Homo sapiens: one gene and its partners. The protein of the gene in region 2 purifies or fractionates together with the protein of the main gene of each other region. This does not show direct contact. Each region holds a gene or a part of one and is shown on either strand. Other genes may lie near its edges.

The links.
Region 1: the proteins of PLEKHG4B (region 2) and DSG1 purify together in Homo sapiens (affinity purification with mass spectrometry, with the first as the bait; one large-scale study listed by BioGRID). This does not show direct contact.
Region 3: the proteins of PLEKHG4B (region 2) and ARHGAP18 purify together in Homo sapiens (affinity purification with western blotting; one study listed by BioGRID and IntAct). This does not show direct contact.
Region 4: the proteins of PLEKHG4B (region 2) and CAMSAP3 purify together in Homo sapiens (affinity purification with mass spectrometry, with the first as the bait; one large-scale study listed by BioGRID). This does not show direct contact.

What each region holds. Positions count from the first base shown.
Region 1 is NC_000018.10:31,349,160-31,352,659, forward strand, and holds part of DSG1 (desmoglein-1 preproprotein), read left to right. Parts: intron 1-3,500. UniProt on the Homo sapiens protein: Component of intercellular desmosome junctions. Involved in the interaction of plaque proteins and intermediate filaments mediating cell-cell adhesion.
Region 2 is NC_000005.10:158,168-161,667, forward strand, and holds part of PLEKHG4B (pleckstrin homology domain-containing family G member 4B), read left to right. Parts: intron 1-3,500. UniProt on the Homo sapiens protein: Guanine nucleotide exchange factor (GEF) which specifically activates small GTPase CDC42 by exchanging bound GDP for free GTP.
Region 3 is NC_000006.12:129,707,378-129,711,463, forward strand, and holds the start of ARHGAP18 (rho GTPase-activating protein 18), read right to left. Parts: upstream 2,801-4,086; 5' UTR 2,760-2,800; coding exon 2,647-2,759; intron 1-2,646. UniProt on the Homo sapiens protein: Rho GTPase activating protein that suppresses F-actin polymerization by inhibiting Rho. Rho GTPase activating proteins act by converting Rho-type GTPases to an inactive GDP-bound state.
Region 4 is NC_000019.10:7,602,363-7,605,862, reverse strand, and holds part of CAMSAP3 (calmodulin-regulated spectrin-associated protein 3), read right to left. Parts: intron 638-3,500; coding exon 384-637; intron 1-383. UniProt on the Homo sapiens protein: Key microtubule-organizing protein that specifically binds the minus-end of non-centrosomal microtubules and regulates their dynamics and organization.

The DNA.
Region 1 (3,500 bases), on a different chromosome or scaffold from region 2:
ATCCAGTTTCACCTTTCTACATATGGCTAGCCAGTTTTCCCAGCACCATTTATTAAATAGGGAATCCTTTCCCCATTGCTTGTTTTTCTCAGGTTTGTCAAAGATCAGATAGTTGTAGATATGCGGTGTTATTTCTGAGGGCTCTGTTCTGTTCCATTGATCTATATCTCTGTTTTGGTACCAGTACCATGCTGTTTTGGTTACTGTAGCCTTATAGTATAGTTTGAAGTCAGGTAGTGTGATGCCTCCAGCTTTGTTCTTTTGGCTTAGGATTGACGTGGCGATGCGGGCTCCTTTTTTGGTTCCATATGAACTTTAAAGTAGTTTTTTCCAATTCTGTGAAGAAAGTCATTGGTAGCTTGATGGGGATGGCATTGAATCTGTAAATTACCTTGGGCAGTATGGCCATTTTCACGATATTGATTCTTCCTACCCATGAGCATGGAATGTTCTTCCATTTGTTTGTGTCCTCTTTTATTTCCTTGAGCAGTGGTTTGTAGTTCTCCTTGAAGAGGTCCTTCACATCCCTTGTAAGTTGGATTCCTAGGTATTTTATTCTCTTTGAAGCAATTGTGAATGGGAGTTCACTCATGATTTGTCTCTCTGTTTGTCTGTTGTTGGTGTATAAGAATGCTTGTGATTTTTATACATTGATTTTGTATCCTGAGACTTTGCTGAAGTTGCTTATCAGCTTAAGGAGATTTTGGGCTGAGACAATGGGGTTTTCTAGATATACAATCATGTCGTCTGCAAACAGGGACAATTTGACTTCCTCTTTTCCTAATTGAATACCCTTTATTTCCTTCTCCTGCCTAATTGCCCTGGCCAGAACTTCCAACACTATGTTGAATAGGAGTGGTGAGAGAGGGCATCCCTGTCTTGTGCCAGTTTTCAAAGGGAATGCTTCCAGTTTTTGCCCATTCAGTATGATACTGGCTGTGGGTTTGTCATAGATAGCTCTTATTATTTTGAAATACGTCCCATCAATACCTAATTTATTGAGAGTTTTTAGCATGAAGGGTTGTTGAATTTTGTCAAAGGCTTTTTCTGCATCTATTGAGATAATCATGTGGTTTTTGTCTTTGGCTCTATTTATATGCTGGATTACATTTATTGATTTGCGTATATTGAACCAGCCTTGCATCCCAGGGATGAAGCCCACTTGATCATGGTGGATAAGCTTTTTGATGTGCTGCTGGATTCGTTTTGCCAGTATTTTATTGAGGATTTTTGCATCAATGTTCATCAAGGATATTGGTCTAAAATTCTCTTTTTTTGTTGTGTCTCTGCCTGGCTTTGGTATCAGAATGATGCTGGCCTCATAAAATGAGTTAGGGAGGATTCTCTCTTTTTCTATTGATTGGAATAGTTTCAGAAGGAATGGTACCAGTTCCTCCTTGTACCTCTGGTAGAATTCGGCTGTGAATCCATCTGGTCCTGGACTCTTTTTGATTGGTAAGCTATTGATTATTGCCACAATTTCAGCTCCTGTTATTGGTCTATTCAGAGATTCAACTTCTACCTGGTTTAGTCTTGGGAGAGTGTATGTGTCCAAGAATTTATCCATTTCTTCTAGATTTTCTAGTTTATTTGCGTAGAGGTGTTTGTAGTATTCTCTGATGGTAGTTTGTATTTCTGTGGGATCAGTGGTGATATCCCCTTTATCATTTTTTATTGCATCTATTTGATTCTTCTCTCTTTTTTTCTTTATTAGTCTTGCTAGCAGTCTATCAATTTTGTTGACCCTTTCAAAAAACCAGTTCCTGGATTCATTAATTTTTTGAAGGGTTTTTTGTGTCTCTATTTCCTTCAGTTCTGCTCTGATCTTAGTTATTTCTTGCCTTCTGCTAGCTTTTGAATGTGTTTGCTCTTGCTTTTCTAGTTCTTTTAATTGTGATGTTAGGGTGTCAATTTGGGATCTTTCCTGCTTTCTCTTGTGGGCATTTAGTGCTATAAATTTCCCTCTACACACTGCTTTGAATGCGTCCCAGAGATTCTGGTATGTTGTGTCTTTGTTCTCGTTGGTTTCAAAGAACATCTTTATTTCTGCCTTCATTTCGTTATGTACCCAGTAGTCATTCAGGAGCAGGTTGTTCAGTTTCCATGTAGTTGAGCGGTTTTAAGTGAGATTCTTAATCCTGAGTTCTAGTTTGATTGCACTGTGGTCTGAGAGATAGTTTGTTATAATTTCCGTTCTTTTACATTTGCTGAGGAGAGCTTTACTTCCCAGTATGTGGTCAATTTTGGAATAGGTGTGGTGTGGTGCTGAAAAAAATGTATATTCTGTTGATTTGGGGTGGAGAGTTCTGTAGATGTCTATTAGGTCCGCCTGGTGCAGAGCTGAGTTCAATTCCTGGGTATCCTTGTTGACTTTCTGTCTCGTTGATCTGTCTAATGTTGACAGTGGGGTGTTAAAGTCTCCCATTATTAATGTGTGGGAGTCTAAGTCTCTTTGTAGGTCACTCAGGATTTGCTTTATGAATCTTGGTGCTCCTGTATTGGGTGCATATATATTTAGGATAGTTAGCTCTTCTTGTTGAATTGATCCCTTTACCATTATGTAATGGCCTTCTTTGTCTCTTTTGATCTTTGTTGGTTTAAAGTCTGTTTTATCAGAGACTAGGATTGCAACCCCTGCCTTTTTTTGTTTTCCATTGGCTGGGTAGATCTTCCTCCACCCTTTTATTTTGAGCCTATGTGTGTCTCTGCACGTGAGATGGGTTTCCTGAATACAGCACACTGATGGGTCTTGACTCTTTATCCAATTTGCCAGTCTGTGTCTTTTAATTGGAGCATTTAGTCCATTTACATTTAAAGTTAATATTGCTATGTGTGAATTTGATCCTGTCATGATGATGTTAGCTGGTTATTTTGCTCGTTAGTTGATGCAGTTTCTTCCTAGTCTCGATGGTCTTTACATTTTGGCATGATTTTGCAGCAGCTGGTACCGGTTGTTCCTTTCCATGTTTAGTGCTTCCTTCAGGAGCTCTTGTAAGGCAGGCCTGGTGGTGACAAAATCTCTCAGCATTTGCTTGTCTGTAAAGGATTTTATTTCTCCTTCACTTATGAAGCTTAGTTTGGCTGGATATGAAATTCTGGGTTGAAAATTCTTTCCTTTAAGAATGTTGAATATTGGCCCCCACTCTCTTCTGGCTTGTAGGGTTTCTGCTGAGAGATCTGCTGTTAGTCTGATGGGCTTCCCTTTGAGGGTAACCCGACCTTTCTCTCTGGCTGCCCTTAACATTTTTTCCTTCATTTCAACTTTGGTGAATCTGACAATTATGTGTCTTGGAGTTGCTCTTCTCGAGGAGTATCTTTGTGGCATTCTCTGTATTTTCTGAATCTGAACGTTGGCCTGCCTTGCTAGATTGGGGAAGTTCTCCTGGATAATATCCTACAGAGTGTTTTCCAACTTGGTTCCATTCTCCCCATCACTTTTAGGTACACCAATCAGACGTAGATTTGGTCTTTTCACATAGTCCCATATTTCTTGGAGGCTT
Region 2 (3,500 bases):
TCTGCTCTATCCTGGCTCCATCTCCCCTCCTCCCCCTGCCCATCCTGGGGGTCTCCCCCATCTTCCCCTCCTCCCCCTGCCCATCCTGGGGGTCTCCTCCATCTCCTCTCCTCCCTCTGCCCATCCTGGGGGTCTCCTCCATCTCCTCTCCTCCCTCTGCCCATCCTGGGGGTCTCCTCCATCTCCTGTCCTCCCTCTGCCCATCCTGGGGGTCTCCTCCATCTCCTCTCCTCTCTCTGCCCATCCTGGGGGTCTCCTCCTTCTCCTCTCCTCCCTCTGCCCGTCCTGGGAGTCTCCCCCATCTCTCCTCCCACTGCCTATTCTGGGGGTCTCCCCTATCTCCCCTCCTCCCTCTGCCCATCCCAGGGGGTCTCCCCCATCTCCCCCTCCTCCCTCTGCCCGTCCTGGGAGTCTCCTTCATCTTCCCCTCCTCGTTCTACTCCGTCCTTGGGGGGGTCTCCCCCATCTCCCCTCCTCCCTCTGCCCATCCTGGGGGATCTCCCCCATCTCCCCTTCCTCCCTCTGCCTGTCCTGGGGGGTCTCCTTCGTCTTCCCTTCCTCGTTCTACTCCTTCCTGGGGTGTCTCCCCCATCTCCCCTCCTCCCTCTGCTCTTCCTGGGGTCTCCTCCATCTCCCTCCCCACTCTGCCCCATCCTGTGGTCTCCTATTTCCTGTATCCAAGTCTTCCTCTTTTTTCATTTACTTTGGCGTTTTATGCAGAATAACTTCCAGGACTTCCCAGAGAAAGGGATCTTGGGGTGAGCATTTTTGAGGCCGTGGTATCTAAAAGCATCTCTACTCCACCTTCATGGCCAGCAGTCACTTTAGTTTCCCTTCGCCAGCTGGAAGGCCCTGCGCCTGTGCTTAGCTTCCATCCCACTCCCAGCCTTCTGCCTGTGCCCTGCTTCTCGGTGGAAGCCACAGACTTTCCTGTCGTCCTCGGGGCTCTGGAATCTGAGGGTTGCCCAGGTGCGCTGAGGGCAGGTGTGCCCGAGGGTCACCCAGGTGCACTGAGAGCAGGTGTGCCTGAGGGTGGCCCAGGTGTGCCTGAGGGTCGCCCAGGTGCACTGAGGGCAGGTGTGCCTGAGGGTCGCCCAGGTGCACTGAGGGCAGGTGTGCCTGAGGGTCGCCCAGGTGCACCGAGGGCAGGTGTGCTCTTTGTGTCTGCACTGCGCCCCTCTGTTCTGGGAATTCTGTGACATCCTTCGTGGCGCTCGCATTTCCCACAGCTCCACACTTCCATCTGGTTCTGGAGTTTTCTGTCCTGTTGCCTTAATTTTCCCCACCCCTGGCTGTGTGCTGTCCTTGTAAGGTAGATTTTTCTCAGCTTTACCCTCTAACTCTATTATTGAGTTTTTTGTTTCTGCTCTTGCTTTTTAACTCCATGGGCTTATTTTCTGAACAGTCCCCTCTCCATACTAATCATGATGAGTCTGCACAGTCTGTGGCTTCTGTGGGTTTGTTCTGGCGCCAGAGGCTTTCCTGGCGACCCCTGGCTAGGAAGCCTGTGGCCCACGCATCTTTAGCATTTTCTCCCTGGCGGTCTGATTCTTTTCCTCTAATCCCGGCCTGAAAGGAGAGCCTGGCCGTAGCTCAGTGTTCACCTGCCAGGGAACAGACCCTGGGCCCTGTGGAGCAGGGTGCCCAGCTCCTTCCCTCCGACACTCCCTCACCCTGTCCTGTGGAGTCTCGGGACTTGGCCTCTGCTCTCCTCAGGCCCTGCCACTCCCGCTTCCTTCCCGGCCTCCAGGTTTGTGCCCTGGCTGCTCTCTGCCCACCGTGCTGAGTGTTACGCCTTGGAAGATGCTTGCAGGGCTTTAGTGGTGTCTCAAGAGGACACGTCTCACTCTGCAGTCTTCACCCAGAAACTCCACGTTGTGACCGGACAGGCGATCCTGCTATGTATAGGTGCACGTCTGTCTCTATATATTTAACCTAAAAAGTGCATGCACACTGTGGGAAAATTAGAAACAAATAGATTTTTACACACGGGATGCCGCATGTGGCGGCCTCGGCACCCTGTGTGTGGGCATGCGCTGCAAGCTCAGTCCCCGAGCCATGTTCACACGGCTCCCACACTGAAGGCCCTGGGCTCCTCCCCTCTCTGCTGTTAGAAACTCCCCATGTTGAACATCTCTGTGTCTCTGCTTCCTTCACAGCCTGTGGGTGTTGACTCTGGATACATTCCTAGGCTCGGATGGCTGCGGTCAGACCATTTGTTTTTGGAGGTTTCCACGCATAAGCCGTGGCACTCCAGCCGCACCTGCCTCCCGCCGGCTGCCCCGTGGGGAAATGGAGCCCCTAAACAGTGTGCCCTCAGATTTTCTATGCGACAGCTGGACATTCTCTTCACACGTTTATTATTTTTATTTCTGTAGTGAATTACTTGTTCATGCTTTAGACAGTTTTTCTAGGGTTGATCATCACTTCTGTCTATGTTATATGGATCCTTCATGTTCTGCTTGTTTTCCTAGTTTGTCATTTGCCCTCTAGCTTTGCTTATCTTTTAAACAGCCCTTTCTACCTTAAGTTATAGAATTATTAGTGTATTTCATCATAGAACCTTTATGACTTGAATTTTTGTATTTAAATCTTGAAACCAATGACAGCCGATTTTTCCACAAAGTTGGAGGCCAGGCTCCAGCTCTGCGCCACCCCCACTCTGCTCTGCCGAAGCCGCACCTGCCCCTTGCCTGGCAGTTGCAAGACTCTGCCCGTGCTCCTAAGAATCAAGATGCTGTGATTTTCTTCTTGACTCTGGCTCTGTTTACAGACAGCGTATGTGCTGGTCTGTCTCTCCTCTGCTGCATGTCTGGGGTCATTCGGTACCTTCTGATGGTCATGGATCCAGGCAGCTGTTCTCTTCTTCACAACAGGCCTCTCATCTCTGGGCATCTGACCCCTAGTCGCCCCTGGTGTTGCTGTTTAACGACAACATGAAGGGCTTACCTCTGACATTTCCACTGAATCCAGCAGTAAATGCCTCCAAAATAAGAACCTTGGTCTTGTCACCAGGGCGCGTAGCCACAGGCGCTCCGTCCAGCAGGGCTCAGCCAGGGGCTCCCCCATCTTTCCCAGGCAGCCTCAAGGGGCCAAGCAGCCACTGGCCTGAAGAATATTTCTGGAATATGCTTACCATATTAACCAGTTTCAAAATGGAAAGTCCTGGATCTATTGTTCAATGATTTTAATGTCCTTTTCCAAACAATGAAAATAGTTTGGAGCTTGAGCCTCAGAGGCCCGTGCCACCTCTCATCAGTCGTGTTCATTCACGGGTGGTTACGCAGCCAGGCTGTCAGCCCTGTGCAGCGTGTACTCAGGACATGACCAAGACGCATCCCTCCCTCGGTCCTGCTAAATCCTAGAGTGTGACTTCTTCGCATGTTTAAATATAAAATGTTCTTCCCCTGTGTAGATCAAATCATAGTTTGGAAAAGAACTAGAGAAATGCCTCGGTCCTTTGGTGCCTGCTCTCGAGAATGAGAGGCAGCAGCAGGCAG
Region 3 (4,086 bases), on a different chromosome or scaffold from region 2:
GTGATAAGAAAAGTTATACTTCCGTGCTATCTTCTATAATTTTTAAATGGGTAGGAGGAAATGCAGAATCTAATTTAGCTTTTATTTTTTATTTATTTATTTATTTTTTGAGACAGGGTCTCACTCCCTCACCCAGGCTGGAGTGCAGTGGCGTGATCTCAGCTCACTGCAATCTCTGCTCCACCAGCCTCAAGTGATCCTCACACTTCAGCCTCCTGAGTAGCTGGGACCACGGGCATGCACTACCATTTCTAGTTTGTTTGTGGTTTCTTGTTTTTTTTTTTTTTTTTGTATTTTTGGTAGAGCTGTGGGGGCGGGGGTCTTTTTTTTGCCCAGGCTGGTCTCTAACTCCTGAGCTCAAGCAATCCACCCACCTCAGCTTCCCAAAGTGCTGAGATGACAGGTGTGAGCCATCACACCCAGCCTAATGTAGCCTTTTTAAGAGTTTTGTTTTGTTTTTACTTTTTGGAGAACTTCTTTAAATAGGCATCAACCATCAACCTTGCACCTTGGAGCAGCTTCCCAGGGCTTAAAACAACACCTGACCAACCCAGCCAAAGCCAAAGCCAAAGTCCAGTTCACCGCCCCGAAACCACTATCACCATTCTTAGGTGGTCACCGAGGACCCCATCCCACCTTCAAATCCTCCTTCCTTCTATCCATCCCCTCCCCCATAGCAATTACAGTATCTCAATCCTTTCAGGCTAAACAGGGTATCTCCCAAAACAACAACAAGTTTATCTGATTCGTTAGCCCTTAAGGGTAAAAGCCATTGAAAACTAGCCCTACTCCCTCCTTCCTCCCTGCCCTCAAACCAGGCTCCCATCTTCTCCGGTCAATATCAGGAACGATCCCTAGAACTAATTCAGTGGTGGGAAGTTGGGTCTGGTATGGGCAGGCTACGTGACAGCCAGCAAAGGAGCTCACCTGGAGCTGTGGCCCCACACAGGGCACTTGCCGTGTGGGCAGCTGCCCACCCTGCCACCTTAGTGCCTCTTGGTTCTGCTTCAGCCTAGGCAGAGAATGATCTGATCCTCTCTTATTCTCTCAACCCACTCAAGTATGGGCCACCCACACTGCAAACACAGAATAATGAGTCTCCAGAACTGGAGATGCAGCCCCAGACAAAGGCCTAGAACTCCAGACCTTCCAAAAACTTAACTAATCCCTGGGGTTTGAGTCCTACGTGAAAATGAGAGGTTAGGACTCAGTCCTTAAGGTCCTTTCCATTCTCACAATCAAGATCCAAGATTCAGCTCAGGTCCTCAGGCCATTCAGCCTAAAGTCGGAGAATGTCCTGAGCTTGTATAATTTTGGCAATTTTGACTGACATGTGGAATCCAAGTTATGGCTGGGTATGGGGTTGGTGTTGCAGGCTGCTTTACTGCTTAATGATTACTAATACATTACAGAAAAATGGATGAAAACACTTCAAGATCTCTTGATTTAATGATTTAACATTAAGTCATTTAAAATGATGGAAAATGAAATGGTAACACAGCTAAGGCACAAGCACCAAATCTTTTTTATCTTTGGAAATGAATTCATTCAATGAAATACATACTGTGGATGCTATGTGAGAAACAGTTCCCGTCAGCTGGGAGTCTAACACTGAGTATTACAGCCATTCCTTTGATTTTTCTCCCTCCCTCATATTTGGAGATTTTAAAACAAATGAAAGGCAGCATTATTTCAGCTTAAGGCACAGGCATAAGTCACATAAGAACAAAGAAGGTTTTATTATCACATTAAGCATTGAGGAGGAAATGTGCTTACCGATAACTAATTTAGTGTTCTAGGCTATTAGGTTAGTATTTGCTTCTTGCAATCTTCTAGGCCAATATTTACTATTTATATCTTGATGGAGGTAAAAATGTTCAGCTAGTGAGAAGGTCATTAAGGAGAGAAAGAAAAAAAAAAGCCCTTGGAAAATGGAACAAAGTACACAGATAGGGAGAAAGGTACCCTTTGCGCCTCAGTGGTCTATAGAACATTTGCCCTCTCTGCCTATAAAGTGATTTAACATTAACCACATTTCACTCCAGCAGCAGAGTGCTATCTCCTGACAAAAACTCCTTTTTGAAAGCCTGGGGGAAAAAAAATCCACATACACAAAAGAATGTGAAACATATTGCCACAGGCCAGTGTCTTGGGCTTTTTGCCTAAGAGGTTTGCTTTCAGCAAAGAGAGGGGGGAAAAAAAACACTCTAACAACAACAGCTTGTACAGTACAGTGAACAGCCTCCCTGCTTTTTGGCAGACTTTCCCAGCGAACAGTTCCAGTGGCAGTGCCTTGAGCCCATTCAAGAATTCCATTTCATAGGAAAGGAAGTGTTTCAGATAGACCTATTTGATCTTTCAGCATGTGCAAATGCACCTGCTAAATAGCTAGTCTGACAGCCCATATAGCCCTCTCCCCAGTTCCTTCTTCTCTGTCTTCACCAGTAATCATATGGGTTATTTCAGACTTGGACTAGGTGAGATGAAAAGTACATAAAAATCACGCCAAACGTTGCTACTGCTGCTGCACGAGCTCAGGCTCGACGTGCAGATGGAATTCCCTTCTCCCCACGCCAACTTCCCTGTCACTTTCTTCCTGGAGCAGGTAAGAGGGTTTTGTTTTGTTTTCAGCTTCCGAAGGCTTACCTCGAGGTGGCTTCCTCCCCTGCCTTTGCATGGCTGTTCCCGACGGTCTGGTCCTTGCCGCTGGGGTGGTAGGCTGTTAGTACCACTCCCTGGGAACTGGAGAGCCAGCTCATGGTGAGAGAAGGGACATACTTTCTGCGATCCTGACACAGAGAAGGGGAAAGAAGTTCCTGTCTCGCCTGGCAACTCGCTCATTAGCATTGGCCAGCTCCTCCCCGCAGGCTGGCGATTCACACGGGGAGGGGCGGGGTCTGTCCAGGGAAGGGCTTCCTGCCTCTCCAATTAGAAGCTGCAACTCACAGCATGGTTTCAACTCTGGACAATTGCACTCTGGGCGGCTTTGGTTAAAGGAGGCGAAGGGTGGAAGCGACGGGTTGCACCCACCCCCAAGTTAGTCTGATCAGATTAAACTGCCAGAACGTATATTCAACTCATCACTGTAACTACAAGCCGTCTTACTTAGGAAACCATGAGTTGCTGCCAAGGCTTTTTTTTTTCCCTCCCCAATTCCTCTATCTTATAATTTCTGCTACTTAATGTAACATGAGTAAAGGCATTTCTTAACCCCTTCATGTTCAGCGTTAAAATTAGCCATAGTAAAAAACAACGAACCCGCGGCAAAACTCTGCAATCCAGACGACGAGAAAGGCTTGATCCTTGTGTCCGGTTAAAAATGCCCTCATAAAAATTGTGTGTCCTGGAATGTCGTCGTCTTTCACATAAAGCCAATCTCAAATATACGTCTTGTTTTAGCAAAATATTTTTCAGCACCAAAAAGGGATAGACCTACCAATGCTCTGTTAAGTGTTATTGCTGAGAACAAGAGAAGTCCCTGCCATTTGTTGAGCACCTACTATATGCCAAGCTCTCATGGACGGGGGTTTCACATGTATTATCTCATTCCATTCAATTCTCTCTCTCTCACACACACACACACACCGTACAAGATAGGTATCACTATCATCTGTGTTATACATAACACAAGGAAAGTAAGGCTGAGGGACGAGTTAAGTAACTTCACTAAGATAACACAGTTGCTAGTGCCAGAAGCTGGATTTGAACAGAATTCTAGGCTACATTCCTTTTATTTTTCACCAGTATGCTCTTCTTTGTTTTGCAGATTAAGAAACAAGATCAAAATTATCATAAACACAAAAGACAGCTCTGTTCTTTCTCCCCATCTCCCCTCCAAAAAAAAAAATCACTTTTTTGGTTTGTTTTTGAATCAGGGTCTCACTCTGTCACCCAGGCTGGAGTACAGTGGTGATTGTAACTCACTGCAGCCTCAACCTCCCAGGCTCAAGAAATCCTCCAGCCTCAGCCTCCCCAATAGCTAAGACCACAGGCATGCACTACCACGCCCAGCTAATTTTTTTATGCTTTGTGGAGAGGGAGGGTCTCACTGTGTTGCCCAGGCTGGTCTTGAACTCCTGGGCTCAA
Region 4 (3,500 bases), on a different chromosome or scaffold from region 2:
GTGGGAGGAGCTAGGTTTGATGGACAGAGCTTAAGGGACAGAGCCAAGACTGATGATAGGAGGAGCTAGGTTTGATGGACATAGCTTAAGGGAAGGAGCCAAGACTGATAGGAGCTAGGCTTAATGGATAGCGCTTGAGGGGAGGAGCCAGACCTCGTGGGAGGAACTAGGCTTAATAGCGCTTGAGGGGAGGAGCCAGGCCTGGTGGGAGGAACCTGGGGGAGGAGCCAAGCCTGATGGGAGGAGCTAGGCTTAATCGACAAAGCTTGAAAGGAGCCAAGACTGATAGAGGGAACTTGGGAGGAGCCAGGACTGGCGGGAGGAGCTTGAGGGGAGGAGCTGAGCATGGTAGGCGTGGTCTAACAGGCAGTGGCGGGGCCTACCATGAGAATGGGCTGGTGCCTCAGGTCGGCCTCGCGCACCGGGCGCTCGGGCAAAGCAGGCACTGTGCCCCTCCGCGCCAGCAGGGCCAGCAGTGCAGAGGGGTTGGGGGGTGTTTCAAGCTGTGGCAGTGCCTGGCGCCAGGCTCTGCAGTAGAGCTCGGCTGAGAGCAGCAGCCGTGTCACCGGGGGCTTCACATGCTCCTGCGCGTACTGGTCGGTATAGAAGGGCTCCCACAGCTCCGGGGGCACGTGCTCTGTGGGGGCATAGAGGGGAAACACGGGGGTCAGGGTCACCAGATACAACACACACACACACACACACACACACACACCACATGGCCCGGATTAAGAGTGTGTCTGGACCAGGGAGGATGGCATTGGGAAAGGAGAAAGGGGATCTGGGCTGAGAGTGCAGATGTGCAGGAGTTTGCTGGAGGAAGGGGTGATGGCGTTGTAGGCAGAGGGGCCTGCAGATGCAAAGCCCAGCAGGTGGGAGAGAACACGGTGCCTCAGGGAGCTGATGGGCACTTAGAGTGGAAAGGAGGGGAGGCTACCCCCAATACCAGGCCAGCTGGACTGGCTCTTGTAGGTCCCAGGAAAGACAATAACATCGGCAATCCTAAGAGCCTTCCTGCTCTTGCCAATGTAGACTCACTGAGCCTTACATCAACGCTAGGAGGCAGCCAGGGCCCAATTGGCAACCCCCATGTTACAGAGGAGGAAACTGAGGCACAGAGAAGGAAAGTCCCTTGCCCCAGGCCAAATAACTCTTCAACACCAGGACTGGGGTTAGACCCAGCAAACTGGACGCCCTCTCTTAGCTTGCAGGCAGGGGGGGATGAGTGGGGGGCACACAGGCGAGCAGGGGAGGTGGGCACACCACAGGCACATCGAGGGAGTTGAGTGATGTAAACCTGGTGATTGAAGGGAGGAGGCAAGGGACAGAGAGGGAGGTAGCCAGGACCTTGCTGGGTCTGAGGGGGAAGAGGGAAGAGAGGGGTAATGACTGAGCTTGGGTGCAGGAGGAATGGGAGGTGAAGGGGTGAAATTGAATGTGAGGGGCTTTGAGGACATCCTTGAGGCAGATTATGTGAAAGGCTGGGGCTTAGAGAGATGGTGAGGTCACATCATAGAGACAGCCTGAGGTCCCTAAATAGGACAATGGGAAGAGGCGTGAGGAAGCCCCAGGTGGACAGTGGGCTGGGGGCAGAAATCCACGTAGGACCAAGAGTGGAGAGGAGAAGGCCAGGAAGGCTTGGCAGGGGTCGGGGAAGAGGTGACTGAAATCAACAGCAGGGAATCTGTCCAGCTCTTGTTCTAATCTGCACAGCTTTTGCGGTTTTTTGGAGATAAGAGTCTCTCTGTCGCCCAGGCTGGAGGGCAGTGGTGCAATCTTGGCTCACTGCAACCTCTGCCTCCCGGGCTCGAATGATTCTCCTGCCTCAGACTCCCAAGTAGCTGGGATTACAGGTGCGATGCTGCCATACCCGGCTAATTTTTGTATGTTGTAGAAACAGGGTTATCACCATTTTGGCCAGGCTGGTCTTGAACTCCTGACCTCAAGCGATCTGCTCACCTTGGCCTCCCAAAGTGCTGGGATTACAGGCGTGAGCCACCACGCCCAGCCTGCACAGCCTTCTCTGTTTGTTTGAGTTTTTGCTGGAGTGCAGTGGCACGATCATGGCTCACTGCAACCTGAACTCTGGGCTCAAGGGATCCTCCCTGCCTCAGCCTCCTGAGTAGCTGGGACCGCAGGCACGTGCCACCACACCCAGCCAATTTTTAAATTTTTTTATAAAGATGGAAGCCTCACCATGTTGCTCAGGCTGGTTTCGAATTTCCTGGCCTCAAGTGATCCACCTGCCTTGGCTTCCCAAAGTGCTGGGATTATAGGGGTAAGCCACTGTGCCCAGACTTGTTTTGTATATTGGGGTTCTGTGTGTGTGTTTGAAAGAACGGGGTGGGGGCCGGGTGCAGTGACTCATGCCTGTAATCCCAGCACTTTGGGAAAACAAGGTAGGCAGATCTTTTAAGGTCAGGAGTTCAAGACCAGCCTTGTCAACATGGTGAAACCCCATCTCTACTAAAAATACAAAAATGAGCTGGGCATGGTGGCACACGCCTATAATCCCAGCTACTCGGGAAGCCGAGGCCGGAGAATCGCTTAAATCTGGGAGGCAGAGGTTGCAGCCAGCTGAGATTGCGCCACTGCACTCCAGCCTGGGTGATAGAGCAAGCCTCTGTCTTAAAAAAAAAAAAAAGAAAGAAAGAAAAAAAAAGAAAAGAAAGAACAGGGTAAGGGGTTCTAGTGCTTCAGAACATATTTGAACGGGACTTCTCCACCTGTGAGGACCCAGGCACTCTTGGCTGCCTTCTGTCCCTCCCTGTCCTGGCTCCTTTCCCACCTTCTAAAACCACACTGGACCGTCCCACTTAACGCGCCACCCGCATGTAGACTTGGACCTTCTTTTTGCCCCTCTCATCTTGGCTCCTTGAAAGAAGAGGTATTTCAGGCTCACTTCCTCCCTGCCCTCCCAGCCCCCCTCCACCTCTCCCTCAATTTCCCTGAGCTCGATGCTGCCCTCATGGCTTCCGGTCTCCCCAAGGCCAGCAGGGACCTCCAAAGCATATCTGTGGGCCCGTATCTCGCCTGGGCTCTGTGCCCAGTGCCTCCTTCTTCCAGAAACCTTCCTCCCACAGGCGTCTCCTTGTAAATGGACATGCCCCACCCCCACCCCAGGCCACCCTACCCCGTGACGGCTTCCAGGGCCACCTGAAGACTGCAACAGCGGCTGCCACGGGCCCCACTGCACCCTGGGCATCTCCCACAATTCTCAACATCTCACCCACACCTCCCCTCCTCCCTGCCCCCAAGGCAGTGAGAAATCACCCTCCCTCCCTTTCTTTACGCCCTCACCCCACATTTAATGCGTCCTTGGCTTTCAACTTCCTGATATCTCCCAAATCCAAACCCTCCTCTCTACCTCCCCAGCCCCGGCCTTGGGCACGTCTTGCTCCCACCAGCAAAATCACACGTGTTTCTTTCCTACAGGACTTTTCAGGGCCTTTAAGATGAAAAACAAGAAACAAAAAACACCAAAACCTTAAGCTAGGGCT